4 linked regions of the Homo sapiens genome follow. The protein of the gene in region 4 purifies or fractionates together with the protein of the main gene of each other region. This does not show direct contact. Each region holds a gene or a part of one and is shown on either strand. Other genes may lie near its edges.

Region 1 (7,000 bases), on a different chromosome or scaffold from region 4:
ATCTGTTCCCACATCCATTTCTTCATCTTCGTCTTGCTCTGTGTCTTCTGTTGTGTCTTCTGCTGTCTCTTCAGGTTCTTCTTCGGGCTCTTCTTCCACCTAAACACAACATTTATGGGCCCATTAATGCCTTGGATTTATTTCCACTTTGCTCATTTATATGTATAAAATCATAATTAATGTCACTTCTGTTTATTCAGAACCACAGACTAAATCCTCTTAACTAGAATGAACAGCCAAGCTAACAAAAGGAGGCAGGCAAAAAGGAAAGAGGACGTAAAAGGAGGACTTAGTTTCTAGTGCAGTGCCTGACACTACAGGGATTCAAACATTCAATAAAATTCTTTCAAAAGGTAGAAATTAGGCAAATGTCGCAAAGCTACATCCCTCAATCATGAGAGGCCTATTCTGAAAGAACAGAAACAAAGAAAGCCAGCCAGCCTTTGCGGGAAGGTTGGGGATACAAACCTTTGCATCAGGGTCAATGTTCAAACTGAGGCGAAGCATTCTTTCTATTCTATCTCCATATGCTTTAGTGTCTGGTAAAAGATACCCTGACCGAAGCGTTGCTGTTTCAAACAAAACCACAGCAAGATCCAAAACTGTTTTATCATCTTCATCTTCCTGAAATGCAAGAAGATGCACTAGATTAATATTAAAAGATACAAAGTACTCAAATTAAAAGACAAGCAAGAGGACTGCTTTAATACTACCTTAATTCGTCGAAGCATGTCTCTGATCAGCGGGTGTCTGGGATTAATTTCAAATGTTTTCTTCTGACTCGCATAGTAACTGTTAAGAGATAAAAATGAACATTAACAAAACATATCCAATTTTAGGGTTCATACGTTTCCCTTATTCTTTCATAATTACACAGAACAACTCTTGGTAAAAAAAAAAAATCAAAATGTACTATTGACACTTGAACACCACAGGTTTGAACTTATATGCTATTTTTTTTCCAATAAATACAGTCCGCCCTCCGTATGTGCAGGTTCAGCAACCAAACTCAGATAGAAAATACCGTATTCTTGGGATGTGGAATCCACACACACAGAGCTCCCACTCTTCATATACACGGGTTCCACAGGGCAGACTGGGGGACTAGAATATTTGTGGATTTTGGCAGGGGTCCTAGAACCAATCTCCCTCATACACCTAAGGACGACTGTACTTTTCCAGTCTACTTTATCTGCAGAGTCAATCAACCTCGGATTGAAAATATTAGAAAGGGCAAAACAAGAAAAAAATAAAAAACCCAATACAGTATAATAGCTATTTACATAGCACTTAAATTGCATTAGGTATTAAAAGTAATCTATAGATTATTTAAAGTACATGGGAAGATGTGCATAGGTTATATGCAAATACGGCACGACTTTACCTAAGGGACTTGACTATGTGTGGATTTTGGTATCCATGGGATGTTCTGGAACCAACACCCCATGGACAAAAAGGGATGACTGCACTGTTTCCTTATTTAGTTTTTATAGAGACAGGGTATCACTATATTGCACAGGCTAGTCTTGAACTCTTGGCCTCAAGTGATCCTCTCACCTCAGCCTCCCAAAGTGTTGAGATTACACACGTGAGCCATGTGCCCAGCCTGTATTGCTCCCTTTTAACGGGGAGGTGGGGTGGGGAGCAAGTGGACACGGTTAGATGAAAAATGAAATGAAGGGAACTATTTTATTTACTGATGAGTCCCAAGTACCTGGAGCACTGCTGAACAGACGAACTGATTTAATGTCCTGTTTGTTCCCTCTTAGTTTATTCTTACTACCGTAATTGTAGCTCTGCCTCCCCAAGTTCAGAAAAATCTATGTAGCCTCTGGATTGTGCTCCAATAATAATACCTTCTCCACGATGCCTTCGCCAATGATTCCAAGAAAAATTAACTTTATCTGAGCTCAGTTCCAAATGCATTTTGAATATACCTTCAAAATCCTTAGCTTTTTACTGTTGGTTGTGATTATTCTCTCTTCTCTAGTTTAAAGCTCTGAGGACAGGGAGGAACCACATCCTTCCCTATCCTGGTGTACCCATTATCTATGTAGGGCTCGGATTATGACTTGCTTTTTTTCCTCTTTTTTAAATAAAAAAGAGACGGAGTCTGGCTATGTTACCCAGGCTAGAGCTAGAGTGCAATGCCATTACAGCACACTACAGCCTCGAACTCTTGGAATCAACTGATACTCCTGCATCAGCCTCCTGAGTGACAACAGGAGTGAGTCACCATGCCTGGCTTTGATTTGTCATTTTCACTAGTCTAAATGTTAGAAAAGACAGGAGTTATGTCTACCTGTGACCATCAGTGCATGGACATAGTAAGTCTTCATGTTTGTTGGATGCAAGGTAACTTCCTATTAATCATTTCCTGAAATTAATAGGTGGACATGTTTTAAATGGCCCTTGTACTATTGCAATGGGATATCAGATAAACAGAACACTATTCTCTGCATGAAATTTATAGTTAAAAGACATATATGGAATTTTAGAATTGTGACAACAATGGAGACTACATTTGTGAGAAAAGGCTTTAAGAATAATAATCCTGGCCAGGCGCAGTGGCCCACGCCTGTAATCCCAGCACTTTGGGAGGCCGCAGAGGGCGGATCATGAGGTCAGGAGTTCGAGACCAGCCTGGCCAACATGGTGAAACACCGTCTCTACTAAAAATACAAAAATTAGCGGGTGTGCTGACAGGTGCCTGTAATCCCAGCTACTCAGGAGGCTAAGACAGGAGAATTACTTGAACCCAGGAGGCGGAGGTTGCAGTGAGCAGAGATTGCGCCACTGTACTCCAGCCTGGGTGACAGAGCAAGACTCTGTCTCGGGGGAAAAAAAAAAAGAATCCTTAAGCTAGGCCTTGGGAAAAAAGGATGATGACTAGATAGCATATCAGAAACATACTCCAGGTGAAAGAAGAGAGAATAAAAGTAGGGGAGAAGTCATTTTCAAGATCATTGCTGTGACATTAAAACATAAACTTGAAATACTATATTTCTTGAAAATAAAGAGTACCAAAGACTCACTATACCTCCAGGTATAGGCCCTTGAGTTCAAATACTGTTAATTCACAGGTCCTGTACCGTCTACTTTATGAGACATTCTATCTGGATACCCATAATTTAATGCTTGGGGGTGTGGGGGACGTGATTTGAAATGGACTTAACTCACTTGAGGAATGTTGTCATTAACCTCGTGCAGCTATTACATTTAAAAATGTAAAATAAATTCAGATATTAGGCTAAGCATATAATCCAATGCAAAAGTAAAGACTATGCATAACACATTAAGAAAATTCCCATTTACATATCAAATACAATAAAATCAGAAAATCATGAGTCAAAGACCTTTTCTTTCTCAATCAAATGTAGGAGAAATCCCTTCGTAAACTTGTTGTCTACCTTATAGTAGACAGTGGTAGACATTTAAGGCAATTTTACTCTTTGTATTGAAGCTGGTATTATCTCCAAAACAAAGATTGGGTAAGGGGCAACGCCCTGGCAGGGACTTTCCCGAGGATGCTTACTTTGTAGAGATGTCCTTGCCCGTTTGGTACGCTTGTGCTTTCATGATTCTCTCCATGTTGCCAGACCATCCGTACTGGCTGGCCACCAAAGCACACGGAGATTCTGTCAGGCGCTGAGACACCACAGCCTTTTCAATCTTAGGGAAAGAAATCAAGTCATATAAATTAATATCAACAGGTAAGGTCATTGAGCAATTGTCTTTCAACTGTCTAAGACTTTATCACTTAAGATCATAAACACAGAAGCAGGTCATAAAAATAGCTTTTCTTAAGGTTTAGGAGAATTTGTAGGGGCACTTACTTGATAATCTGAATTTTCTAGTCAGAAGTTTAAATACCACCTTTTAAAAACATAAAATTTAATTTGTAACAAGTTATTAACAAAGCAGTATTGTCGAAAGTTTTAAGCTTTCTCCCAATAATTTAATTACATTAATTAAATTTTTACCATTCTAATGGTTACAAAGTAACCAGCTGCAGCTTAATTTGTTCACAAAATAACTTTCTCTTAAATGCTGATACTAATATTTCCACAATTTGTAATTTCCACAGTACCTTGTCCTTAAGGGCTTTATCTTTCATCCAATTCAGCAGAGGCTCAAATTCTTTCTCAACTGCTTCACGACTCTCCTTAGTTTTCTCACTTTCATCGAACTTCACTCCTTCCTTGGCAACATTCTGGAACCTCTTCCCATCAAATTCGGGAAGGGCCTGAATACAGTATTCATCCACAGGTTCTGTGAGGTAAATAACTTCATAGCCCTTTTTCAGAAGTCGCTCAACAAATGGAGAAGATTCAGCCTACAAAATTAAGAAGTCACAAAGTTTTCCAAGTCTGGCCCTGGTGTATTTGTTTATCCTAGCAGCTGCTATGTTTATACATTATTAAAAACTCCATTTTACAGGTGAAGAATTAAGAGGTTCAGAGAATATAAATGACCTTCCTGTCAGTGACTGACCAGGCCTTATAACTACTCCAGTTACACAATTAAGTTTTCCTTTTCTCCCCCTCAAGAGTTGGCTATAAATCCCTAGCTACCTTCCAGAATGGCTGACAACACTTATGAGTTCATCTCACCTCTTTTCTGCTGGACCCAGCCATGAAGTAGATTTTGTCTTGTTTTTCCTTCATTCTTTCCACATACTGGTCTAGGCTAGTAATGTCAGTTGGATGATGAGAAGACTGGAACCTAAGAAGTTTAGCAAGACGTGTTCGATTCGAGTGGTCTTCAATCACACCAAGCTTGATGTTGGTACCAAATTCTTTCCAAAAAGTATCATTGTATTTATCATCAGCAATCTTCTTGATCATGTCCAGCGTTTTACGAACAAGCTTCTTCCTAATCACCTAAACACAATGAAAGAATAACTGATTAGAGAAGTTAATCTCCAACTTTTGAGAATGTAAGGTACCCAGGCAGGAGTGTGAAAAACACAAAGACGATATCGTTATTGCCATTTATTGAGGGGCAGGAAATGGTGAAGCACTCCAATTCATTCAGATTGGGCTGAAATTCAGCTGTCCGTGCAAATAGCCACAAGATTGCCTTAATGTTTATATTCTAACCTTAGGACTCAGTGATACTCTCTCTCTAGCATCTAAATGAAGTGAACAAATATGCTACTTTCAAATACTTTTAAATTCAAAAACTAAAGAGTCTTCTAATTATGGAAGTATTGGAGGGGAAAGGTTTAATGAAAGGCTTGATAAAAAGGTGGCTATGTGTCTAGATGACAAAATGTTAATCCTGGACCTGTACAATTCTTTAATTTTTTTCTAGATGTTTGAAACTTCATTATTAAATGTTGGGAGAAAAAGAATCAGATTCTTAGGATCTGATAACTCCAGAAAGAAAGGAAATTCATCTGAAGAATCATGGACCAGACCCAAAATCTGGTTTTACTCCACAAATGGAGCCTGTCCTCTGAACCCCAATCAAACAGCAAAGTGGAGAGTTTCTTCCCAGAGACACTTACCTTAAGCAGTTTATGTTGCTGAAGAGTCTCGCGGGAAACATTCAAGGGGAGATCATCTGAGTCCACCTTCAGATGGCAAAAGAAAGTTCAGTGAGCAATAAAACCACTGGAAGAAAGCAAAGCCAAACAAACACTCTACACTGCCAGACCCCCACAACAATCACCCCTTCTCCCAAACTTCAGATACTTACCACACCCTTGACAAAATTGAGGTATTTAGGCATCATATCATGGAAGTCGTCTGTGATGAATACACGGCGCACATAGAGCTAAAGAGACCAAAAAAAAGTCACTTTCTGGAAATTAAACTTTCAAATTTTAAACGCAGCATGTACTACTTAAAAACTCACCTTAATGTAATCGCTCTTTTTAGATCCATATTCGTCAAACAGACCACGTGGAGCAGATGTGGGTACAAATAAAATTGATTTGAAGGTAACTTCCCCTTCAGCAGTAAAGTGAATATAAGCCATGGGGTCATCACTTTCCTGTGGAAAGTTGGTATCTTAGTCATTCAAACGACACAGGAGAAAAGCAGTGCAAGAACTAAGCAATGTACTATGTGGTACATATTCAGTTTAGCAATTAACTAACAAAAAATTTTCCTTTACTGGCGGGAGGTGGGGAAGAGAAAGAAAAGGGTGGGGGGAAGAGAAAGAAAAGGGTGGAGTGAAGAAATATCTAGAATTGCAATTCTAATTCACTAGACATGGTTGTTTTGATGATGATTGTCAATAACATTATTTCCTAAACTCTCAGAAGGAAGGATGAGTTTATACTTCTTACGTATGAGAGAAGTGAATAGGAAAACCACCACCCTGCCTAAATGACAAAATTACATACAACACTTCAGTGTGCCCTTGAACTACAGTAAGTACTCAAGAACATGTTTCTTCCATGGAACTTAGCTCTAAGAGTGGCTACAAAGATGTATGTAAATACCTGTAAAACAAAGTTGGAAATTCTCTTGATCTGCATTATCTATTACTGTATATGGCTGTTAAGCACTGAAATGTAGCTAGTTCAAATTCAGATGTGCTATTAAAGTGTAAAATACATTTTGAAGGCACAGTACAAATTTTAAAAAGGATATAAAATGTCTCATTATTAGTTTTTATATTGATTATGTTGAAATAATACTATTTGGGGTATGCTGGGTTAAATAAATTATACTATTAACATTTCATGGTTCCTTTTTTTGTATGGCTTCTAAAAAATTTCAAATCATGTGTGGCTCACATTAATTATATTTCTAATACAGCTGCTTTATATGAAGTAAGTTTATAGACACTAGGACTTTAGAGTTTATGGAAATAAAAGTGAAGGCAGAACCAACAGTGTTTTAAGAGTTGAAATTTAAAGGATATGGAATAGAGAAAAGAACAAATACAGACACAGAATATTAAGTTTTATTTAGCTATGGTTAAGTCCACTAGAGCATTCTACTGCTTGTACTAAATGCTGCTGGGGAAACATTAACTTTAAACA
Region 2 (7,000 bases), 1.6 Mb from region 4:
TTTGTCATGTGTAAGTTACATGATCTTACGACAATTCTTCATCTTGCTGAACTGTGGGTTTTTTGTTTGTTTTGTAAGCTGAAGAGGTGGACAAATTATCTTCTGACATTTTAGAAAGTGATTTTCACAAAATGAAAATAATGAAGTGGTGGATAAATCTCATTTATCCGAAAACTTTATAAATGTGGAATCCTCTGACCACATGCCAGAGGAGGTATGGTTTCCCCAGGCTTCCATTGGAATATGTGAGTTCAAAGGTTCCAGTAGAGTTTCCAGCCTTTTGTGCAAGCTCTGGGTTCCAGCCACTTCGAGGGGAAGCCCTGCCCTGCCCTCTGCTTCCCTTGGCTGTCCCATCCCCTCCAACTACTGTGGGGCCAATAACTCTTCCCCTTGAGCTGGTCTGCCACCCCTTATCCTCCTAACTGAGGGAGAGCAGCCTCTCTTCTCCTCCATTTAACCCATTTAGGGTGCAATTTTTTTTAAGAGATAGGGTCTTGCTTTGTTGCCCAGGCTGGTCTCAAACTGCTGGTCTCAAGTGATTATCCCTCCTTGGCCTCCCAAAGTGCTGGGATTACAGGTATGGGCCACTGTGCCCAGTAGGGAGTGACTTTTGTATAGGTAGTTTCTAGAAAACACAGATGGTAGCAAACATGTAAGTCTCCCAAAGAGAAAGCAAATCCTGGAATCACCCCAAACAGAGTTGATCTAAGGTCTCTCCATGCAGGGGTATGGCCTCTGCCTGGTCCCCTTTCTTTTACTCACTCTAGGCAGCTTTGCTCTCTGGAGCAGGGAGGAACTGCTCAGTGGCTAGTTGTCCCTCCACCATGTCTGAAGCCCCCTGCTCAGCGCCCCAGTGGCATCTCCCTCAACATGGTTCCAGGGGCCTCCAGCAATTCTGGGGTGGACTCTCCCACCAAAGTGAAGGCTCCCCAAATAAACACCATGCTCCCAGCCCCCCAGGCACACATTCCTGGTCCCTGCATATCCACTCCTCCTGCCCAGGTGGAGCCAGCTTTTTGGGTGGGCACAGCCCATTGTCAGCTGCCGTTGACCTCGTCAACAAGGCCGACTGAGTTACCTGTGGCTACTCTCATCGGCCCATCGCCAGCCTAAGGACAAAGGGTAAGGCCTGGGAAGATGTCCAAAGGCATGTATGGATAACAGAGATAGAGGCCAGAGAACGCCCAGGGGCAGGCAGGACATCAGAAGGCCATCATGTCCACCTTCTCAGCTTACAGATAAGAAAACCAAAGTGCAGGCAGATTAAGGGATTTTTCTGAAAGTCATTCCCAGAATTAATTAGTGAGAGAGCTGGAGCCAGACCTATGCCTCCCTTACTAATACGTTCATCACATGCCCAAGAGGATGCTGCTTCCAGAATCTCCAGAAAAAAGACCACGATACCCCCGAGAACTCATCCCGGATGCAGTACAACTGATATTGTGCCTCCTCCCTGGGTTCCAGTTTCCTTATATAGAAAAGTGATCTGCCGGGCACAGTGGCTCACACCTGTAATCCCAGCACTTTGGGAGGCCGAGGTGGGTGGATCACGAGGTCAGGAGTTTGAGACCAGCGTGGCCAACGTAGTGAAACCCTGTCTCTACTAAAAATACAAAAATTAGCTGGGCATGGTGGCGCGTGCCTGTACTCCCAGCTACTCGGGAGGCTGAGGCAGGAGAATCGCAGAATCGCTTGAACCCGAGAGGCGGAGGTTGCGGTGAGTCAAGATCGCGCCACTGCACTCCAGCCTGGGCAACAGAGCGAAACTCCATAAAAGGAAGGAAGGAAGGAAGGAAGGAAGGAAGGAAGGAAGGAAGGAAGGAAGGAAGGAAGGAAGGAAGGAAGGGAGAGAGAAAAGTGATGTACGGGAGGGATGGTCTGTTGGGTTCCTCTCAGCTCCAACATGTAAGGTTTCTGTGACCCTCTCCCTTGCAGCCAACACCATGTTCCCAGAAAGGGGTTCTAAGTCCTGGGGCTTCAAGTATAGCCTGGGGTCCCTGCTGGGTCAGTGCCCACCCTGAGGGTGTGTGCGTGCCCTGGGCTGCCCCAGAGCATAGGCCTGAGCCCTGTGGGTCTAAACCATCTCTGTCCGTCCCTCAACCTCAGTGTGCTCCTTATTCGTTGTCTCTTTCCTCCACAGTGTGTCTCTCTTTCCCCATCTTTGTCCCCTGTGCTCTGCCTGGACCTCTTGGGGGCTGCCAGCGAAGGTCTTCTCACCATCACCGTGGCTGACTGCTCCAGCTCTGTGAGGATCCAGCCGGCCTGCTCCAGGCCCCGCCCCTCCACCTGGCACCGCAGCAGCACGTCGTCCCCCACATCCACCGAGGCATTGGGCACCTGGACCTTCAGCGTGGGCACACCTGGCCACCCAGGACGCCCGAGGGCCAAGGGGTGTTAGAGCTGGGAGTGGCCCCAGAACTCTACTGCGGGGCTGCTCCTTCCCCCACCCTCCTCAATGACCTGGAGCCCAGGCGATGTCACCCCAGGCAGTTTCCCCCAGCCTTTGCCAGTGCCCATTCCCCAGGCCTTTTCAGTGCTTGCTCAGTGCCCTCTCCCTCAGGCAGGTAGGTCTCTTCCCCAGCCCCCTTACACCACCTCCCTCACCCGGCACCTACCACAGCTGGCATTGGGCATGTGGGCCAGGGGCCCTTGCCCATGACACTGCAGCTTCTGTTCAGGCACTCCGCCCAGTCCCTCCTCCTCCCAGCGCTGTAGCCAGCGCAGGGCACAAGAACAGTGCAGAGGGTTCCCCGACAGGACCCTGGGGGGCATGGGGGACACCAACAGAGTCAAGGAAAGGGCCTGAGGGATCACAGGGGATAAGAGGGAGCAGTTAGGCAGCAGGGAGGACCGTCTACAGGTGAAAGGGAGGACACAGAGGTCTTTCTCTCTGACTCCAGTAACAGGATGTTATTCAAAGAAATAGGCCATTGGGAGGCCGAGGCGGGCGGATCACAAGGTCAGAAGATCGAGACCATCCTGGCTAACACAGTGAAACCCCGTCTCTACTAAAAATGCAAAAACTTAGCCAGGCATGGTGGCGGGCACCTGTAGTCCCACCTACTCAGGAGGCTGAGGCAGGAGAATGGCGTGAACCCAGGAGGCGGAGCTTGCAGTGAGCCGAGATGAGATTGTGCCACTGCACTCCAGCCTGGGTGACAGAGCGAGACTCCGTCTCATAAAAAAAAAAAAAGAAAAGAAAAGAAAAGAAAGAAAGAAAAGAAAAGAAATAAGCCAGGCGCTGTGACTCACACCTGTTATCCCGGCACTTTGGGAGGCCGAGGCGGAGGATGGCTTGAGCCCAGGAGTTCAAGATCAGCCTGGGCAACATGGCAAAACCCCAACTCTACAAAAAGAAAAAATAACGTAAAAATGAAAGAAATCTAATGCAGAAAGTGGAAGACAAGACAGCTGACGTCTGAGGGATGCATGGGGCTCCCTCACCCCAGGCTCCCCAGGATGAGAAACCAGGCAAGGGCTCTCAGCATGGTGACAAGGAGGGAAGGGCACAGCCCCCCAGAGTGACCCAGAGGCTTTAAGTGCCCACCAGGTACACATGGACCCCTGCTGCCCCACTCACCCCTGTGCAGGGTGCCCTGGGAATGTGGGCAGATGTGCCTTGGACACACAGTGGGCCTGTAATCTGCTCAGCCAGGCCCAGCACACACACAGTCATCCAGGCCAGCTCCTCAGGGCAGTAGCCCCCTTAACGGGTAGTCCTGCAGCCCCTGCTTTGATGGGGGTTTCACTGGCATGCACATAGTCCCCAAAGAGACCCCCCAGCAGTGTCACACAGACACAGTGACCCAATGTCATCCAACAGACCCAAGTGCACACAGGCACACACACACTTGGTGCTCTTGCCCCTGGAAGCGCCCCCACTCACAGTTCCTGTAAGGAGAGGCCCTGCACAGTTTTCCAGGAGAGAGACTCCAGAGCGTTGAAGGAGAGATTCCTGCGGGCGTGGAGACACAGCAAGACAGACCCCTTGAGTGACCCGACCTCACTCTGACCAGAATGAGGGAGGGGAGGAGCCAAGAAAGAAGTTGACATCTGGCTCCCCCGCCCCGGCCTAGGCAACCAGAACCAGCCCTGGAAGGCAGTGTGTGTAGATGGTGGGGTGGGGGGTGGGGGGACTTTCTGAGTCCCACTCCTTTCCCTGGGACAACAAGGGTTAACCCCACTTAACCCCCTCTCCAGACCCCAGGGAGGGGGATCTGAGGGAACAGCCGCTCCTCCCTCCCCCACTGCTTTGGCCCCAGCTGGCAAAGTGCTGAGGCCACAGCTGGGGGAAGGGGTCCATCTGTGCTCCCCTCCCTACAGAGCCCAGGACGGGGCCAGAGGAAGAGGGGGAGGGTTGAGGCTGCCACTCCCTTGCCCCTACCTGACCACAAGGAACTCCACGCACTTCCTCAGCTCCCCTCCTCCTCCTCCTTCCGGGCCCTCCTCAGGGACTAAAAGGTCAGGCAGGAAAGGACCCACACCCCCACACCCCCAGCCCCCTCGTTGTATGGATGGAAAAAGTGAGCCCAGCAGGGGCCCGGCTCCAGGCCACACAGGAAAATGATGTAGGAGCCCCAGTGCCCTGTGCCCTGTGCCAGGCTGCCGCTGCTGGGACCCTCTGCCTCTGAGGGGCCTATCCTGACCCCTCTTCTTTCCTAGCCAACCTAGAATTTGTGGTGGCTGGGTGGGAGAAGTACCACCACATAGGGACCAAAGACACAACCCACTCTAGAGCCAGCTAGAGCAGGTGTAAGTTCTATCCTGCCACTTACAGCTGTGTGACCTCAGTCCAGAAACTCAACCTCTCTGATTCTCAGAATTCTCATCTATGAAATGGGGACAAGAACACTCTCTCTCTCACCAGGTTGATTGTGAAGATTCATTGACATAAGTATCGTGAAGTGTCATTGAGCACGTTTTTAACTGAAGCCCCGGTGCATAGACGGTGATATGACATCACTTTATTTTGCTTTGTTAAATTGCTGGACACAGCAGAGTTTAGAGGACCCTGCATAACTCCATGAGTGTCAGCCCCACCATCCTTCCCATCTCTCTGCCTGCTCATATTGGGGGACAGGGGAGCTGAACTCCTGCCCTCAGAAGGCCAGGGAGGGGCTGCCAGGGACTCTGATAGTCTCTCCTGCCCATCCCATGACCCTCTCTGTCCTACAGCAGGGGTCCCCAATTCCCAGGCCACAGATGGGTAATAGTGCCACTATTCTCCAGCCTGAGCAACAGAGGGAGACCCTGACTCTTAAAAAATAAATTAAAGAAAAAGAGAAGCACAGCAAGGAAGAGGGGCTATAAACAGGGCAAATATGTGGTCTCTTAGGAACCGGGCCACACAGCAGGAGGTGAGCAGCGGTGAGTGAGCATTACCGCCTGAGCTCCGCCTCCTGTCATATCAATGGCAGCATTAGATTCTGTGAACTACTGCGCACGTGAGGGATCTAGGTTGTGTGCTCCTTTTGAGAATCTAACTAATGCCTCATAATCTGAGGTGGAACAGTTTCGTCCTGAAATCATCCTCTCCTCCCGCACCATCCGTGGTAAAATTGTCTTCCATGAAACCAGTCTCTGGTGCCAAAAAAGTTGGGGTCCACTGCTCTACAGGAGGGATAGTTATGACTCCCAGGAATGAGGAGGGTGACAAGTGGCAGACCTAACACCCCAGCTCCCAGGATGTCCTAGGGGCCAAGTCAATGAGTCCCTGGGAAATGGAGTCCCAGCCAGAACCCAGGAGTCCTGCTCCTGCCGCTTGCTCCCTTTGCACTGGTGTGTATCTGAGCCCTGGGAAGAAAGATAGGGCAGGCACCTATGAGAAGTGTCCTTGCAGCATGGACCATGGAAGTGAGATGGCAAGGAGGACCTCTAGCTGTCAGGGGCGAGAGCATGCCATCCCTGAGGGAGATGGGAGGAAGCCCCAGGAGAATGGTGAGGTGACTTCCCTGACCAGGCTTGGGCCCTCCTCGCAATCATTCCCCGGGGACAGCCAAGCCCATTAGCAGCCCAAGTCTGGGTGTCCTCCCCAACTCCCACTGCCCAGCACTGGCCACACTCACAGGCGACTGAGCCGAGGAGTGAAATGGAAGGCATCTGGCGCCACGAAACGGAGACCACTCTTCACGATGGTGCTGGGGAGGGGTGCAGGAGGATCAGTCCCCAGGTCTCAGCTACTCTGGGCCCCTGGCCCTCCCTGCCCATCCCAGCCTCCCAGTCCCCTGTGCTGAACCCCTACCCCTCCTCAGGCCCCTCATTGTTTCCTCAACTACTCTAGACCCCTCAAAGCCCTGAGCTTCCTGACTTCTCCCAGTCCCTCAGTGCTCAGCCTCTCAGGTCCTCCCAGGCCCTCGGATGCTTGAGCCCTCCCTGACCTTCTGGTCTCCCCCAGGCCCATGCTGAGCTCCACACCCACAGTCCCCGTTTCCCTCACAGGTTTCTCAGCTCCCCCAGGCCCCTCAGATCACGGAGCTCCAGATGCTGCAGATGCTGCTGGTTCTCGATGTAGCTGTGGGGAGAGCGGATGGGAGTCACAGGGCTCAGGCCCACACTTGAGTTCCCATGCCCACCCACTTACTCCCTCACAATACACATGCACATGCCACATGCACACGCATATGCACCTGTTCAGACCTGCATACACACTTACACAGGCGTGCACACACAAATGCATACATGTGCACAGAGACGCACCTCAAGTCACACATGCACATGTGTGTGCATGAACACACAAGCGCACATACATATGGATCCCCACACCCTCACACATATGCACATTCTCACATACCTCTTGCACACATGCACACACCTAGGTATGCACATGCGCACACACAGAGGCATAAGCATCTGCACAGATGACGCCATGCACCTGCACATGTGCCTGCAGGAACACGCTCACCCATGGACACACAGAAACAAAGCTCACGTCCATCTCTCACGTGCACACACACAAGTCCATTCTCAGATTGGTGTTCTCCTTTTATATCAGGCATCCCTG
Region 3 (8,263 bases), on a different chromosome or scaffold from region 4:
TCTATGAAAAATTAGGAAAAAAAAAAAAATTAGCTGAGTGTAGCGTCATCCGCCTGTGGATCCAGCTACTCAGGAGACTGAGGCAGGAAGATCACTTGAACCAATAACAGCAGGAGTTTGAGACTGCAGTGAGCAATAACCACGCCACTGCACTCCAGCCTGATGAAGAGCAAGACCCTGTCTCTAAAAAAATAAGTAAGGCTGAGCGCGGTGGCTCACACCTGTAATCCCAGCACTTTGGGAGGCCGAGGTGGGCGGACTGCCTGAGCTCAGGAGTTCGCAACCAGCCTGGACAACCCGGTGAAACCCCGTCTCTACTAAAATACAAAAAACCGGGCCGGGTGTGGTGGTGGGCACCTGTAGTCCCAGCTACTTGGGAGGCTGAGGCAGGAGAATTGCTTGAACCCAGGAGGCGGAGGTTGCAGTGAGCCAAGATCACACCACTGTACTCCAGCCTGAGAGGGAGACTCCGTCTCAAAAAAAAAAAAAAAAAAAAAAAAAAAGTACATCTGTTGGAGTAACAAAGAATTCAACCAGGACTTTCCTGAAAAGTTTTACCAAAAGCTGTATAGGTTTTAACTGTTTAGGTACTTTTATTATTTCCTAGGAGTTATTATAAACGGCGTATTCTATTTGCACAGTTCATTACACTTTTTTTTTTGTTTTTCCTGAGATGGAGTCTCACTCTGTCACCCAGGCTGGAGTGCAATGGAACCATCTCCGCTCACTGCAACCTCCGCCTTCCAGGTTTAGTGATTCTCCTGCCTCAGCCTCCCGAGTAGCTGGAGGTTAATTTTCTGTATTTTTAGTAGAGACAGGGTTTCACCATTTTGGCGAGGCTGGTTACCAACTCCTGGCCTCAAGTAATCCGCCCACCTCAGCCTCCCAAAGTGCTCGAACTACAGGCGTGAGAGCCACCGTGCCCAGCCAATTCATTACACTTTTTAAAGTAGTTTCATGTTCACCATTTTATCTGCCCCTCCCAATTGCCCCCTAAAGGTGAGGAACCCAGGAGACTTCTCATTCCTATTTTGAAGTTACGGAAACCAAAGTGGGACAAAAGCTACCACACTGGGCCGGGCGCAGTGGCTCACGCCTGTAATCCCAGCATTTTGGGAGGCCGAGGTGGGCGGATCACGAGGTCAGGAGATTGAGACCATCCTGGCTAACACGGTGAAACCCCGTCTCTACTAAAAATACAAAAACAAAATTAGCCGGGCGTGGTGGCGGGCACCTGTAGTCCCAGCTACAAGGGAGGCTGAGGCAGGAGAATGGCGTGAACCCGGGAGGCGGAGCTTGCAGTGAGCCGAGATCGCGCCACTGCACTCCAGCCTGAGTGACAGAGCGAGACTCCGTCTAAAAAAAAAAAAAAAAGGTTACCACACTGGGCACACAATTCAAGTTTCATGAGCCTGCAATTCATGCTCACCAACTGCCACTTCATCCCCTTAAGCTGTCTTCCAGGGCAAAGAGAACTCTAACTAAAAGGATGCAATAGTGTGATTGCCAAAACGGCAGCAACGACTTCTGTCAAAACACTTATCCCTTGTGGCCCTGAGAAGATAATGCGCTAAATGAACTGGGGAGTAAGGATAGTAAGGTGTCGGGGAATGCTGACAGCCATTTGCAGATAAGTCAGAAAATTTCTGTTGTGCAACACTGACCCCCACACACAGTTCACTCGAGCATTCTCATGATCCAGTTACCTGGCTTGTGTGTGCACCCTGGCTGATGCACAGGAGAACTCCCACATAGTCCTTTACCTCTGCTCTAAGTATAATTATACCAAATGTACAACAGTTGATCCATATGGCAGTTGCTTCTATTCATGACCCTCAAACAATGTTGGGAAAAGACTGAGATACAGAATGATTTTAAAGATCAATAAAATTCTTCCCCCTTAAAAAAATCTACTTATTAAAAAATTAAGCAAAATCTTCCATTTCCTAAATCAGAGGTAAAAAGACTTAACTATGGTTAATCTTGTCCTCTCAATCTTTTAATATTAAGCTCAGTTTAACTTCCCTCAACCAGCAATCACTTGTGTCATGCCCAGCGGTAATACACAATGCCCGGTTTCTTCTATCACCATAACTGTGACCTCAGGTCCTGCGAAACAGGACTGAACCAGTTCACTAGGATGGCAGTGTATTGGTCCAAAGGCATTCAGATTATAATAACGTACCGCAATGATCATCGAGCAGTTACTAAATGTCGGACTTCCCTGTCTTATTGTATACATATCTTAATTTAATCCTCACAAATCCATCGGGTATTATTATATCCATTACTTGACAAGAACGGGGGCACAAAGGGTAAGAAAACTGCCGAAGTTCACAGAGCAACCAATGACCAATCAAAGACTCGAGCCAGGGCCTTAGCGTTAACCACTGCACGGTCTATCCCTGAACTATAATCCCAGCACCATCAGTACACTAATCGCATGACCTTGGGCCAGTCATTTCATACCTCCAGGCCTCCGGTGTGGAAAGAGATGCACTTAGATGAGCTTTCGGGGGCTTTCCTGCTTTTAACGCCCTGTCCCTCTCCAACTGGATTACTCGCCTCCAGAATAGGTGCTGTAACTGCTAAGTTTCTCAACCACTGCGTGTTCTCCTTCTGGTACATTCCCCTTTCTCTTCAGGGAACTAGGGTCCAGTCTCCGCTTTGGATTTTCAAATATTAAACTGTAACGCTAGTTGTAAACATTCCCTCTCGGTCTAATACCACCCTTCCCTACTACTAGGGGTACCTAGTAGGCCCGATTCCACCCTATACTTTTACCCAGTTACTCCAGCCCACCTCGCGGCTGCCCAGGCAGCCGGCAAAGAGGCCTAAGAAAGCCCTAGAAGCAAAGCCATAGGAATAAGTCAGCTTTCCCAGAGGTCAAAGAAGGCTGTCGGGCCACCTGCCACGCCTCCCGACCCCGGCGGCGCGGCCTGGGCCCGCAACCCAACCAAAGACGCCCGGATTCGGGCCTCCTCGCTCACGGCGGGCGCGTCGGCCAGGGCCTGGGCCCTCAAGAGCCAGCCCGACCCCTCAGTCGCCGGCCACGCCCGACCCCTCAGCCGCAGAGGCGCTCCCAGCCCCCCGAGGTCCTCACAGGCCCGAGGACGCGCTCAGGTCTCCCCTCTCACCTCTAGCCTCCCGGGGACCGCGGGGGTGCCCGTGCCCCTTCCCGCCCGCACACCTTGCCCCGCGCCGCAGTAAAGAGAGAGGCGGAGGCGGCCCGACCGTCACGTGCCGCAGAACCAAGAGGCCTCGGCCACCGCTGCCGCGCGAGCGAGCCCCACCGCACGAAGCCCGGCCCTGTGCCCGCCCCTGGCCCCTGAGTAGCCACAGCCGGCGCCAAGTCCCGCCCTCCCGCGCAAGCCCCGACATCCGGTTGGCCGGCGTGGGCATCGCTCTACGCACCGTCCCATACGCCCCCTACGGCTATTCTTCGTGGAGTGTGAAGATTGGCCGGGAGTGAGGCAGGAAGTGGCTGTTGGTTGGGCGGGAGGTGAGGGGCGGGCCACGCTGGATCGAGACCGCCGGGCGCGCGCGTCTCGGGGCGGGGCTGGTTTAACAGGCGTTCCCGCGTCGGTTGCTGTGGTGCCTTCGGGGCGTTCCAACCCAACCCCCAGTAGCCCTCACCCGTCTGGTTCCTGGAGCCGAGACTTGGGACGCATCGCGCGCCCTTCGCTGACGGGGCAAACGGCAGCCGGCAAAAGGGGTAGGAGTCCGACGATCGGCCATCAGGAAGGGCCCGTTGCAGCGAACGCGGGCCCCTACGGGCGTGAGCAGAACCCAGCGCGAGCGCCTGGCCGGATTGGCGTGCACTGCTCCGCGCTGTGTGAGCCGGCGCCGCAGTTCCTGCAGAGTCATGGCTCGGCCCAGGAGCCTGCGCAGCCTCGTCGCCCAGCATAACACACAGTCCAGAATAATATAATCCGAGGTTATTTGAACTTTCAATTTATGTTTCCTGAAGTGAGATTAGGTGTCAGGGCAGAGAGATACAGGGATGACAGGACGAGAGAAAGGATGGTGCCATGGAAAGATTTAAGATACGCCACCATTTTAGTAACCCACTCTTAGTACATCTTCAGTTTTCAGTATGCTGAGAACCTCACAAAATGGAAGTGGCCCAGGGTTTTTCTAGACCTTTAGAGATCCTGATCTCTTGTTCTCTATTTGTTTGGACACCCAAAGGCTTGACTACTAGGGTGGAAAACACTAGAATCAGCGAATGTATCACTGATCTGAAAAGCCCTCTTGCCACCGGGAAGGGGAAGAAAGGCAGGGTTTGGTGTTTGCATGAGTTAGTATCATCCAACCCTCAACCCCCAAATTTTTTTTATTTTTATTTTTTTGAGACGAAGTCTTGCTCTGTCGCTCAGGCTGGAGTCTAGTGGTGCGATCTTAGCTCACTACAACCTCCGCCTCCCGGGTTCAAGCGATTCTCCCTCAGCCTCCCGAGTAGCTGGGATTACAGGCGCCCGCCACCACGCCCGGCTAATTTTTGTATTTTAGTAGAGACAGGTTTCACCATGTTGGCCAGGCTGACCTCAGGTGATCGACCTGCCTCTGCCTCCCACAGTGCTGGGATTACAGGCGTGAGCCACGGCGCCCCAACTTCAGCCCCAAAATTTGTGTAGGAGAATTTTGGTTTCCTGTCTACCTGGGGAAGCAGCTATTCAAAGCAGAATAAAATTCTGGATGCTACATGATCCAAATAATGAGCTTAAAATGTAGTTACAGGAAGTACATTTGTGAGCAAAAGAGCTACTCCTGCAAAGGTAAGTGCCAAAAGACTGTGGTACTATGGAGAATTCAATGGGATTCTGAAGGGGAGGGACTGCTTCCATCCAGAATGGACTGGCAAAGAGGTCAGAATTGGCTGGGCGAGGTGGCTCTCCCTGTGATCTGAGCACTTTGGGAAGCTGATGCAGGTGGATCATTTGAGGCCAGGAGTTCAAGACTAGCCTGGGCAACATAGTGAGACCCCTGTCTCTACAAACATAAAAATAAAAAAATTAGCCTGGCATGGTGCACACCCGTAGACCCAGATACTAGGAAGACTGAGGCAGGAGTATCCTTGACTCCTGATTGAGGAGGCTGCAGTGAGCTAAGATCAGGCCACTGCATTTCATCCAGCCTGGGCAACAGAGTGAGAACCCGTCTCTAAATAAATAAATAATAAAAACAAACAGATGTTTTACATGGGCATCGTTTGTGCAGTCCAAAGCAATTACAATAGTAACATCAACCTGGATCACCATGACAGATATAATAATGAAAACATATTATACGAATTCCCAAAATGTGACAGAGACCAGAAGTGAGTACGTGCTGTTGGAAAAATGGTGCTTATAGACTTACTTGATGCAGGGTTGCCACATTCAATTTGTAAAAACACAGCATCTGTGAAAACCAATAAAAGGAAGTGCAGTAACAAGAGGTTTACAGCCTGTTTACATTCTGACATGGAGCAACAGTCAAGATTTAGTGTCATGTGAAAAAGCACAGAGAAAGGTGTGTTTCCTTTCATACTGAAAAGGGAGATGTATTCTCATACATGTAAGCTTGGCCAAACAAGCTTACTAGAAAGAAACACGAGAAACTGCTAGGAAAGGTTAATGCTGGAGAGGGGGCCTGAAACTCTAGAAGCAGAAATACTTTCTTGGCCAGGCACAGTGGCTCACGCCTGTAATGCCAGCACTTTGGGAGGCTGAGGCGGGCGGATTACCTGAGGTCAGGAGTTCAAGACCAGTATGGCCAACATGGTGAAACCCTATCTCTACTAAAAATACAAAAATTAGCCGGGCATACTGGTGCACACCTATAGTCCCAGATACTCGGGTGGCTGAGGCAGGACAATCGCTTGAACCCGGGAGGCAGAGGTTGCAGTGAGCCAAGATTGTGCCACTGCACTCTAGCTTGGGTGACAGAGCCAGACTCTGTCTCCAAAAAAAAAAAAAAAAAAAAAAAAAGAAATGACACTTTCTTTAAACATGCATATGATTTTTTCAACAAAGAATCAGGCCGGGTGAGGTAGCTCATGCCTCTAATTCAGCACTTTGGGAGGCGAAGGTGGGTGGATCACTTGAACCCAGGATTCAAGACCAGCCTGGGCAACATGACAAGACCCCATCTCTACAAAATATACAAAAATTAGCTTGGCATAGTGGCTTGAGCCTGTAGTCTCAGCTACTCAGGAGGCCGAGGTGGGAGGATTGTCTAAGGCCAAGAGGTCAAGGCTGCAGTGAGCCAAGATTGGGCCACTGTACCAGAGTAACACCCTGTCTAAAAAAATAAAAATAGGCCAGGCACAGTGGCTCACGCCTGTAATCCCAGCACTTTGGGAGGCCGAGGCGGGTGGATCATGAGGTCAGGAGATCGAGACCACGGTGAAACCCCATCTCTACTAAAAATACAAAAAATTAGCCGGGCGCAGTGGCGGGCGCCTGTAGTCCCAGCTACTCGGGAGGCTGAGGCAGGAGAATGGTGTGAACCCGGAAGGCGGAGCTTGCAGTGAGCGGAGATTGCGCCACAGCACTCCAGCCTGGGCGACAAAACGAGACTCCGTCTCAAAAAAAATAAAAATAAAAATAAATAAATAAATAAAAATAGGCCAGGCACAGTGGCTCACGCCTGTAATCCCAGCACTTTGGGAGGCCAAGGCGGGTGGATCACCTGAGGTCAGGAGTTCGAGACCAACCTGACCAACATGGAGAAGCCCTGTCTCTACTAAAAATACAAAATTAGCCGGGCATGGTGGCTAATGCCTGTAATCCCAGCTACTCGGGAGGCTGAGGCAAGAGAATCGCTTGAACCCAGGAAGCAGAGGATGCGGTGAGCTGAGATTGCGCCATTGCACTCCAGCCTGGGCAACAAGAGTGAAACTCCGCCTCAAACTCACGCCTGTAATCCTAGCACTTTGGGAAGCCGAGGCGGGTGGATCACGAGGTCAAGAGATCGAGACCATCCTGGCTAACACGGTGAAACCCCGTCTCTACTAAAAAAAACCACACACACAAAAAAATTAGCCGGGTGTGGGGCGGGTGCCTGTAGTCCCAGCTGCTGGGGAGGCTGGGGCAGGAGAATGGCGTGAACCCGGGAGGCGGAGCTTGCAGTGAGCTGAGATCGCGCCACTGCACTCCAGCCTGGGAGACAGAGCAAGATTCCGTCTCAAAAATAAATAAATAAATGAAAGAAATAAAAACTTAAAAAAGGAATAAATTTTAGCTTTAGCTTTTGTACTTTTTTCAAAATAGGCAGTATGTTTAAAAGAGTAAACAAAATTGTTGATCCATTTATCCTTCGTATCCAGCTTCTTCTCATAGCTTGTCTCTCCATCCTTCCCTCAAAGCCACCCTCATCCTTGCTCATGCCTACCTTTTGCTTGAAGGAGAAAGTGGGCACACAGAGAGAGGGAGCACTCACATTTTTATCCATTTACTTTTTTTTTTTTGACAGATAAACACTTTGTTTATTCATCCTCCTCCTCATCTCCTCCTCGTCTTCATCTTCCTCTTCCACCTTTTTCCAGGCAACTTTAGCAGGACGCTTTGAGCCATCAAACTTCCCTTTCGACTTAGAATCAGCAACATCCTTCTCGTACTTCTCCTTCAGCTTTGCCGTCTTAGTGATGTAAGGCTGCTTTTCACTGTCATTTAAGTTATTCCACATCTCACCCAGCTTTTTTGCCACATCTCCAATAGAGATGCCAGGGTTTGTGGATTTGATCTTGGGGCGGATTTCCGAAGAGAACAGGAAGAATCCAGATGGTGGCCTTTTGGGGGCACTAGGATCCTTCTTCTTCTTGCCTCCCTTAGCTGGTCCCTTCATTTCCCGATCACAGTGCACTTTATCCGTCTTTGCCATTTCATCAAATTTAGACTTCTCTTTCCCGGACATTGTCTTCCACCTTTCAGAGCACTTCTTGGAAAATTCTGCAAAATTGACAGGGTTTTTCTTTTTACATTCTTCTCTGCATGTCTGCACAAAGAAGACATAAGCAGACATCTTGCCCTTTGGTTTCTTGGGGTCACCTTTAGCCATCCTGGCTGTATTGTTCGCTCTCATTCCTTTTTTTTTTTTTTTTTTTTTTTTTGAGACGGAGTTTCTCTCTTGTTGCCCAGGCTGGAGTGCAATGGCAGGATCTCAGCTCACAGCAACCTCGGCCTCCCGGGTTCCAGCGCTTCTCCTGCCTCAGCCTCCTGAGTAGCTGGGATTACAGGCATAAGCCACCACGCCCGGCCCATTACTTTCTTAATAGTTA
Region 4 (7,476 bases):
GGCAAGGAGTGAAACGGGACGCTGGGCCAACTGCAGGGCTCGGTGAATCAGGGGTATCTAGAGACAAAGGTAGTGAAGAGAGAAGCACCCAGAGTTGGAACACATACTAGCCCAACCAGTGCATCCGGTTCAGCCATTAGCCTCCACCCTCCCACCCCCAGGACAAAACAGCAGGGGACAAAATGTCTGTACAAGCAGACCTACCCTACAGTTTCTCAACCCCCAGACATCAGGGCCCTCAGGGCCTGAAAAAGCTAGAATGCCTACCTTGAGCTTGGTATCTTCCTCTGGGAGGCTGAAGTTGTGCAACTGGAAATCATCAGGGGTGTCTGCATAGGTGTAGGTGCGGATGGAGAAGTCACAGCTGGCCATGGGTACCCGGATGATGTTATATCCGATTCCTACAGAAAAGGATGATCAAGATATGGTAGTCCGAGTCAATAGGAGAGTATGGGACTCTGCTTATCACTTGCCAGTCCTAATAGTGTCTGAGTCAGGGCCAAAGGGAACTTGGGCTCCTGGGTTGGAACCTGTGGAGGCTGGCACCTGGGTGAAGCGCAGGCCTTTCTGAGCCTGAGTCCGTAGCAGTTAGCAGATGATAGGCGGTGAAATCTTATTTCACAGGGCATTAAAACAGGAACCAAATGTCAGGGATGGGCAGAAGTCAGGGTCCAAAGAAAGGGCAAAGAAAAGTGTCAGTGGCTCACGCATGTAATCCCAGCACTTTGGGAGGCCGATGTGGGCAGATCACGAGGTCAGGAGTTCGCAATCATCCTGGCCAACATAGTGAAACCCTGTCTCTACTAAAAATACAAAAAATTAGCCGGGCGTGGTGGCAGGCACCTGTAATCCCAGGTACTCGAGAGGCTGAGACAGGAGAATCACCTGAACCCGGGAGGTGGAGGTTGCAGTGAGCTGAGATTGTGCCACTGCACTCCAGCCTGGGTGACAGTGCGAGACTCTGTCTCAAAAAAAAAAAAAGAAAAAAGAAAAGTGTCTGCTGGGCTCGGTGGCTCACACTTGTAATTCCAGCACTTCGGGAGGCCAAGGCAGGTATATCATTTGAGGTCAGGAGTTTAAGACTAGCCTGGTCAACATGATGAAACCCTGTCTCTACTAAAAATACAAAAATTAGCCAGGTGGTAGTGGCGCACGCCTATAATTCCAGCTACTCAGGAGGCTGAGGCAGGAGAATCACTATAGCCTGGGAGGCAGAGGTTGCTGTGAGGGGAGATCACACCACTGCACTCCTGTCTCGCCGACAGAATGGGCAGAGTGAGATTCTGCCTCAAAAAAATTTTAAAAAAAGAAAAGAAAAACGAAAAGTTTCAATGGCTCTATGTCATCTTGTCCCCTTCCTCCTCACCTTCTTCAGAGAAGTACGATTTAAGTAGCAAATTTTGGGCAGGGGGTGACAGGGCAAGGATGTTGAGAGCAGCAGCATCTGTCATGGCCCCTCCAAATCCCTTCACTTTCTGGAACTTCTGTTCTGGCTGCAGGGTCAGTAGCAGGCCTGAGGACATCCACAGGGAATAAGGGTATCAGTACCCAGCGGGAAACTCCATGGTGATCACTGACACCATTTACCTCTAGGAGGACCCAGCCTGGCCCAGGGGGTGAGGGGTGTAATGGTTACCTGTGCCCGTGTGATTAGCCTGGATGGGCCCCATACTCAGCTCCATCCGTCGCCCACTGCGTGTACTCTCATAGCGGCTGAAGGTACCAAGGGCAGGAAAGGTCGGGGGGTCAAAGGAGTCACAGTATGTGGCATTGCAGACACACACCACCGAGCTGTAGCCGAAGCTTTTAGGGATGCAGGGGCGGGCACCTGGGAGGGAGGGAGTACAAGCAGAGTGAGGTCTGATGAAGACATGGAGAATGGACACATCTGCTAGGAGAGACTGAACACGGTTTCAAAATTCCTCACCCCTTGGCCGGGCGCAGGGGCTCACACCTGTAATCCTAGCACTTTAGGAGGCCGAGGTGGGCGGATCACCTGAGGTGAGGAGTTTGAGACCTGCCTTGCCAGCATGGTGAAACCCCGTCTCTACTAAAAATACAAAAATTAGCTGGGCGTAGTGGTGGCCGCCTGTAATCCCAGCTACCTGGGAAGCTGAAGCAAGAGAATCGCTTGAATCTGGGAGGCAGAGGTTGGAATGAGCCAAAATTGCACCACTGCACTCCAGCCCAGGCAACAGAGTAAGACTCTGTTTCAAAAGAAAAAAAACAAAATCCTCACCCCAAAGTTGGTCTCAGTCACTCAAAAGGATTTATTGAGCACCTACTAAAAGTCTACCACCAGCTTACTGGAAGGCTACCAAAGGACTATGAGGCAGAAGGGAGGCTCTGTGCTACCTCCCCACTGCCTTGACTCACTCACCTGATGCCCACGACACTGCCTGAAGTAGAAGCAATCCTGTGAGGCTGCCAGCCATGATGCTTACCCTACTCAAAGGCTTGGGACATTCCTGAGGACAGAATGAGGAATGACTGAAAAGCAAGCCCCTCTCCACCCCTCAACTACTCTCCTGGGCAGGGCTTAGCTGCCTTTGGGTGCCCATGGCCCGGTCTCCCACATTCATTAGGACAAGGCCCACAGAAACCTGGGTGCAGCTCTCCCTGCAACCCTTCTGATGACAACTCTCTGCCCACCCCAAATCAGGATGCTCCCCACCACTCTTCCCACCCATTTCAACTTCGACCCCTCCCTCCATCTGTGCCTTGCTCAAAGAGCCATGATGGCCCTGGATTCAAAGAGAGTCTGTCATTCATTAAATTCCAGTGCCAGGATTCCAGAAGCACTGTGACAATGCTGATTGGGAGCTCTCTCTCTTACCTCTCTGGAAGGACTTGAAAACTCCATCCCCTCAGGGTCATTAGATGAAGAGAAGACCACAGGGGTTCCAGAGTCTCTGAAGGATAGAGGATCCACTAAACAAAAACAAGGATGCAGGTACCTGCCTTAGCTATAGGCACTAGGTTAGCCCTGCAAGTAATTCCGGCTTCCCGATGTGGATGGGTCATGTGATGACTAGGAGCGTCACATGACACAGGAAGTGAGGCAATCACAGCCATATTTCTAAAGGGCAATTGGCTTCCTCTCATCTGTTACAGATTATATGCCCTATAAAACTCTGGAGGGCATGTATGGGTGACAACTTTAGGAAGAGCCTAGAACACAGATTTGCATGGAGAATGGGGTAGAGGCTCCTAAATCCCAGAGGATGGGAACCACAGCAGGCACACTTCTTTTTTGATAGAAATGTCAAAAAGGTACAAATAAAGCTGATATAATTTAAAAAAAAAAACTTCACTGTGCAAAATACTGACACTACCAAGATGTTTAAGACAGTCTTTGCCCTATAGAGGTGTGTGAGGCATGGAAGTCAGACACACAGATATTTACAGATAAAGACAGAAACGGTAACAGGTGTGCATGGAGAGCTCTCTGAGATGAGGAGGGACCATTCGTGGGTGGGGAATTATCCAGGATGGCTTCACAGAGGAAAAAGTGAGGGGGGTTATTAGCCAGTGAAGTGCAGGGCACAAGAGGGTGGGACACTGGCAGTGGGATGACAGGACTGGAGGGAGGGAGTGGTCAGTGCGGCTCCTCTGCAGCGTCCCTTGTTTCATCATCAGATGCAGATGGTAATAACTGTTCTTCCTTCCTCACAAGACAGGGAGGTTTGTAAAGTCGTTCAAAAACCAAAGTGTTGTACAAAGCCATATCCTCAGTGGACACAAGGAGGAAGCTGTCCATGGTGTGGCCTCATGAACCACATCAAATGAGATTTAGCGGGAGTGGCACACACAGTCATGACCTGACTAATCCCAGCTCTCAGCCCATTTCCTTGCCTGGAAAATGGAGGCAATGCCACAACCTCAAAGGGTGGTTACTGCAGTCAGTGAGGTAAGTGCAGTGCCTGACCACTTGGTAGGCACCTGGGAACTACTTGTCTCTTGTTTGTATTTTTTGTTGTTGTTGTTTTTTGAGACAGAGTCTCACTCTGTTGCCCAGGCTGGAGTGCAGTGGCGTGATCTTGGCTCACTGCAACCTCCACCTCCTGGGTTCGAGTGATTCTCCTGCCTCAGCCTCCCAAGTAGCTGGGATTACAGGTGCCCTCCAACATGCTCAGCTAATTTTTTTATTTTTAGTAGAGATGGGGTTTCACTATGTTGGCCAGGCTGGTCTGAAACTCTGGACCTCAGGTGATCTGCTGCCTTGGTATCCGAAAGTGCTGGGATTACAGGCATGAGCCACTGCGCTGGACCCCAGCCATCCTTTTTGTTCTTTAAATGATCTCAGTGAAGTCTTTCTAGATACACTCCAAGCAAAATTGATCATTTCTTCTTCTAGGTTCCTCCAGTAATTTTTTTTTTTTTGGTTTTGAGACAGAGTCTTGCCCTGTTGCCCAGGCTGGAGTGCAGTGTGATCTCGGCTCAAGCAATTGCCCTGCCTCAGCCTCCTGAGTAGCTGGGATTACAGGAGCCCACCACCATGCCCAGCTAATTTTTGTATTTTTAGTAGAGATGGGGTTTCACCATGTTGGCCAGGCTGGTCTCGAACCCCTGACCTCAGGTGATCCACCAGCCTCAGCCTCCCAAGGTGTTGGGATTATAGCAATGAGCCACCACACCCGGTCCCTCCAGTAATTAAGTACAGTCTCAGTGAGACAGCAAGTTTGGAATCCTGGCTACACCATTTACTGGCTGTTTGACTTTCAATAAATCAATCACTCTAAGCCTCTGTTTCATCTATAAAAGGGGAGTGATAACTCCTACCTCACAGAATTGTTGTGAGGTTTGAGTGTGATAATGTGTCTCTAGTACACTGCTTGACACTAAACATTGCAACATGTCAGGCCTCTGTTCCTGGAGTTCCTTGAAGGAATGTCTTATGCATTCTAAGTATCCTCGTAGATAGCCTGGCACAGGGGTAGCTGTCAAGTTGTAGAATTGAACTAGTTGCTTCACTATGTCAGTAGCCACCCCTTCCAGACTTCTCACTTTTCAAGGAAACATTGCACAGGATTTGTTCTGGGTAGGGCAGGTAATATCTAGTACCTTACTTCCCTCAAGTTCATTCATCTCACAGATATTTCCTGAGCACATTCTACATTTGCCTCTCCTGCTCTATTGAGTTTAGAAGTCCAAACATCTCCTTCCACTTCCCCTCTGCATAGTGAGCCTCTTCTTTTTTGGCCAGGTACTGAGCAATTTTTTGTTTGTTTGTTTGAGACAGGGTCTCCGTATGTTGCCCTGGATGGAGTGTAGTAGCTTGATTTCGGCTCAGTGCAACCTCTGCCTCCAGAATAAGCAATCCTCCCACCTCAGCCTCCAGAATAGCTGGGACTATAGGCGCACACCACCACACCTGGCTAATTTCTGTATTTTTTGTAGAGACGGGGTCTTACTGTGTTGCGCAGGTTGGTCTCAAACTCCTAAACTCAAAGGATCCTCCCGCCTTGGCTTTGCAAAGTGCTGGGATTACAGGGTGAGGCACTGCGCCCAGTCCGCTTGTTTTTTGTTTTGTTTTTTTTTTTGAGACGGAGTATCTCTGTCACCCAGGCTGGAGTGCAGTGGCACGATCTCGGTTCACTGCAACCTCCGCCTCCTAGGTTCAAGCGGAGGGTAGGGACCAGTCCATCCTGGCACCCATCTGCAGCTCCAGTGCGAATCCCAACCCCGACGCTCGTCGCCGGGCTCCGTGAATGTTTGTCACATGTCTGAAGAACGTATGAATTACATAACCTTCTTCCCACTCCACCCCTCAAAAAGCAAGTGGATATAAAGACTTGAAGATTTTATAATCTCTTCTTCATTAGTAAAATCTGACCATCCTTACCGTTAAAAATAATAATGATGGTTGGCCGGGCGCGGTGGCTCACGCCTATAATCACAGCTGTTTGGCAGGCCGAGGCGGGCGGATCACGAGGTCAGGAATTGGAGACCAGCCTGACCAACATGGTGAAACCCCGTCTCTACTAAAAGATACAAAAAATTAGCCGTGCGTGGTGGCGGGTGCCTGTAATCCCACGTACTTGGGAGGCTGAGGTCGGAGAATCGCCTGAACCCGGGAGGCGGAGGTTGCAGTGAGCCAAGAAGGCGCCATTACACTCCAGCCTGGGCGACAGGGCGAGACTCCCTCAAAAAATAATAATAATAACAATAATAATAATAATGGTGAAAAAGGTTAAGTGCGAACGCAGGGAGGGGACAGCTAAGATCCAAAGGTCGAAATATTCATTACGCCTACCGTCGGCGAAGAGAAACAGCAGCCCCAACCGGAGGCAAAACGAAATCCCACCGCAGCCTGCAAAGGCGCCTGGGCGGGACTGGAGACTGGGGCCCCGCGCAGTAAGACTCTGAAGGCAGGATGCAGCCCGACCACCCGCAGCCGCGAGAAAAGCAGCCCTGGGGAGTCGGGGCGGGACCTGGATTGGAAAAGAGACGGTCACTCATGCAGAGGCGGGACTCAGAGCCCTTCCTCAAGTCTCATTGGTCAAGTTGAACGAACAAGTGTCGCTGGCGAGCCGGAGAGAGAGAGAGAGCGAGAGCGAGAGAGCGAGCGAGAGAGAGCGAGAGAGCGAGAGAGCGAGCGAGAGAGAGAGAGAGAGAGAGAGGAGCCGGCGCGAGAACTACGCATGCGTGTCGGCGTTTTCCCGCCAGCACACTGTTGGTGGATGGGGGCGATTGAATTCCCACAGTGAGTCCAGCCCACCGAAGCTCAGAGGATTCCTAACCTTCCTCTTTAGAGAGCCTCAGGTTAGGGAACGTCCAGTGCGCAGAAGCTGCCCCGTGGGAATCCCATTGTCCATCGCCTCCTAATGTTTCGTCCTGGCCGTGCCCTATCCCTTCCTGAGGCTGGGTTGTTATGATGCTGAATTATTCAAGAAGTCTTGCAGCCTGACGCCATCTCTGGGCAGTGCTCCTCCCACCTCCCTGTCTTCCTTGGAGGGCACCACGTTGCCCCTACAAGCACAGGGTCCTGAAGCTGTTTACAGGGCCCCACCCTGCCACTTTAGTATCTTAACGAATGTTTGTTGAGGACCTACTGAGTGTTAGACCCACTGCAATGAGCAAGTTTCTGATCTTGGGACCTTAACATTCTATGGGACGACACAGATATATAAACAAAAATAATAATTTTAGATAGTGATACATGCTGAAACCATGGGTATGTGGCCAGGCGCGGTGAGTCACACCTGTAATCCCAGCACTTTGGGAGACCGAGGCAGGCGGATTACTTGAGGTCAGGAGTTTGAGACCCGCCTGGCCAACATGGTGAAACCCTATCTCTTCTAAAAATACAAAATTTAGCTGGGCGGGCATGGGGACGGGCGCCTGTAATCCCAGCTACTCGGGAGGCTGAGGCAGGAGAATTGCTTGAACCCAGGAGGTGGAAGGTTGCAGTGAGCCCAAATCACACCACTGCACTCCAGCCTGGGTAACAAAGCAAGACCCTGTCTCAAAAAA

Evidence for each region.
Region 1: the proteins of GBA1 (region 4) and HSP90B1 purify together in Homo sapiens (affinity purification with western blotting; 2 studies listed by BioGRID and IntAct, with this or other methods). This does not show direct contact.
Region 2: the proteins of GBA1 (region 4) and NTRK1 purify together in Homo sapiens (affinity purification with mass spectrometry; 2 studies listed by BioGRID). This does not show direct contact.
Region 3: the proteins of GBA1 (region 4) and CANX purify together in Homo sapiens (affinity purification with mass spectrometry; 3 studies listed by BioGRID and IntAct, with this or other methods). This does not show direct contact.

What each region holds. Positions count from the first base shown.
Region 1 is NC_000012.12:103,940,410-103,947,409, reverse strand, and holds part of HSP90B1 (endoplasmin precursor), read right to left. Parts: intron 6,001-7,000; coding exon 5,863-6,000; intron 5,782-5,862; coding exon 5,704-5,781; intron 5,579-5,703; coding exon 5,513-5,578; intron 4,884-5,512; coding exon 4,614-4,883; intron 4,337-4,613; coding exon 4,091-4,336; intron 3,673-4,090; coding exon 3,536-3,672; intron 793-3,535; coding exon 714-792; intron 625-713; coding exon 469-624; intron 100-468; coding exon 1-99.
Region 2 is NC_000001.11:156,863,865-156,870,864, reverse strand, and holds part of NTRK1 (high affinity nerve growth factor receptor isoform 2 precursor), read right to left. Parts: intron 6,512-7,000; coding exon 6,437-6,511; intron 6,138-6,436; coding exon 6,066-6,137; intron 3,956-6,065; coding exon 3,887-3,955; intron 2,762-3,886; coding exon 2,616-2,761; intron 2,361-2,615; coding exon 2,218-2,360; intron 1-2,217. UniProt on the Homo sapiens protein: Receptor tyrosine kinase involved in the development and the maturation of the central and peripheral nervous systems through regulation of proliferation, differentiation and survival of sympathetic and nervous neurons.
Region 3 is NC_000005.10:179,693,977-179,702,239, reverse strand, and holds the start of CANX (calnexin isoform d precursor), read right to left. Parts: upstream 3,274-8,263; 5' UTR 3,138-3,273; intron 2,666-3,137; exon of another isoform or gene 2,629-2,665; coding exon of another isoform or gene 2,470-2,628; intron 1,766-2,469; exon of another isoform or gene 1,707-1,765; intron 1-1,706. UniProt on the Homo sapiens protein: Calcium-binding protein that interacts with newly synthesized monoglucosylated glycoproteins in the endoplasmic reticulum. It may act in assisting protein assembly and/or in the retention within the ER of unassembled protein subunits.
Region 4 is NC_000001.11:155,238,250-155,245,725, forward strand, and holds the start of GBA1 (lysosomal acid glucosylceramidase isoform 1 precursor), read right to left. Parts: upstream 3,001-7,476; 5' UTR 2,864-3,000; coding exon 2,837-2,863; intron 2,469-2,836; coding exon 2,381-2,468; intron 1,829-2,380; coding exon 1,637-1,828; intron 1,514-1,636; coding exon 1,367-1,513; intron 402-1,366; coding exon 268-401; intron 58-267; coding exon 1-57. UniProt on the Homo sapiens protein: Glucosylceramidase that catalyzes, within the lysosomal compartment, the hydrolysis of glucosylceramides/GlcCers (such as beta-D-glucosyl-(1<->1')-N-acylsphing-4-enine) into free ceramides (such as N-acylsphing-4-enine) and glucose.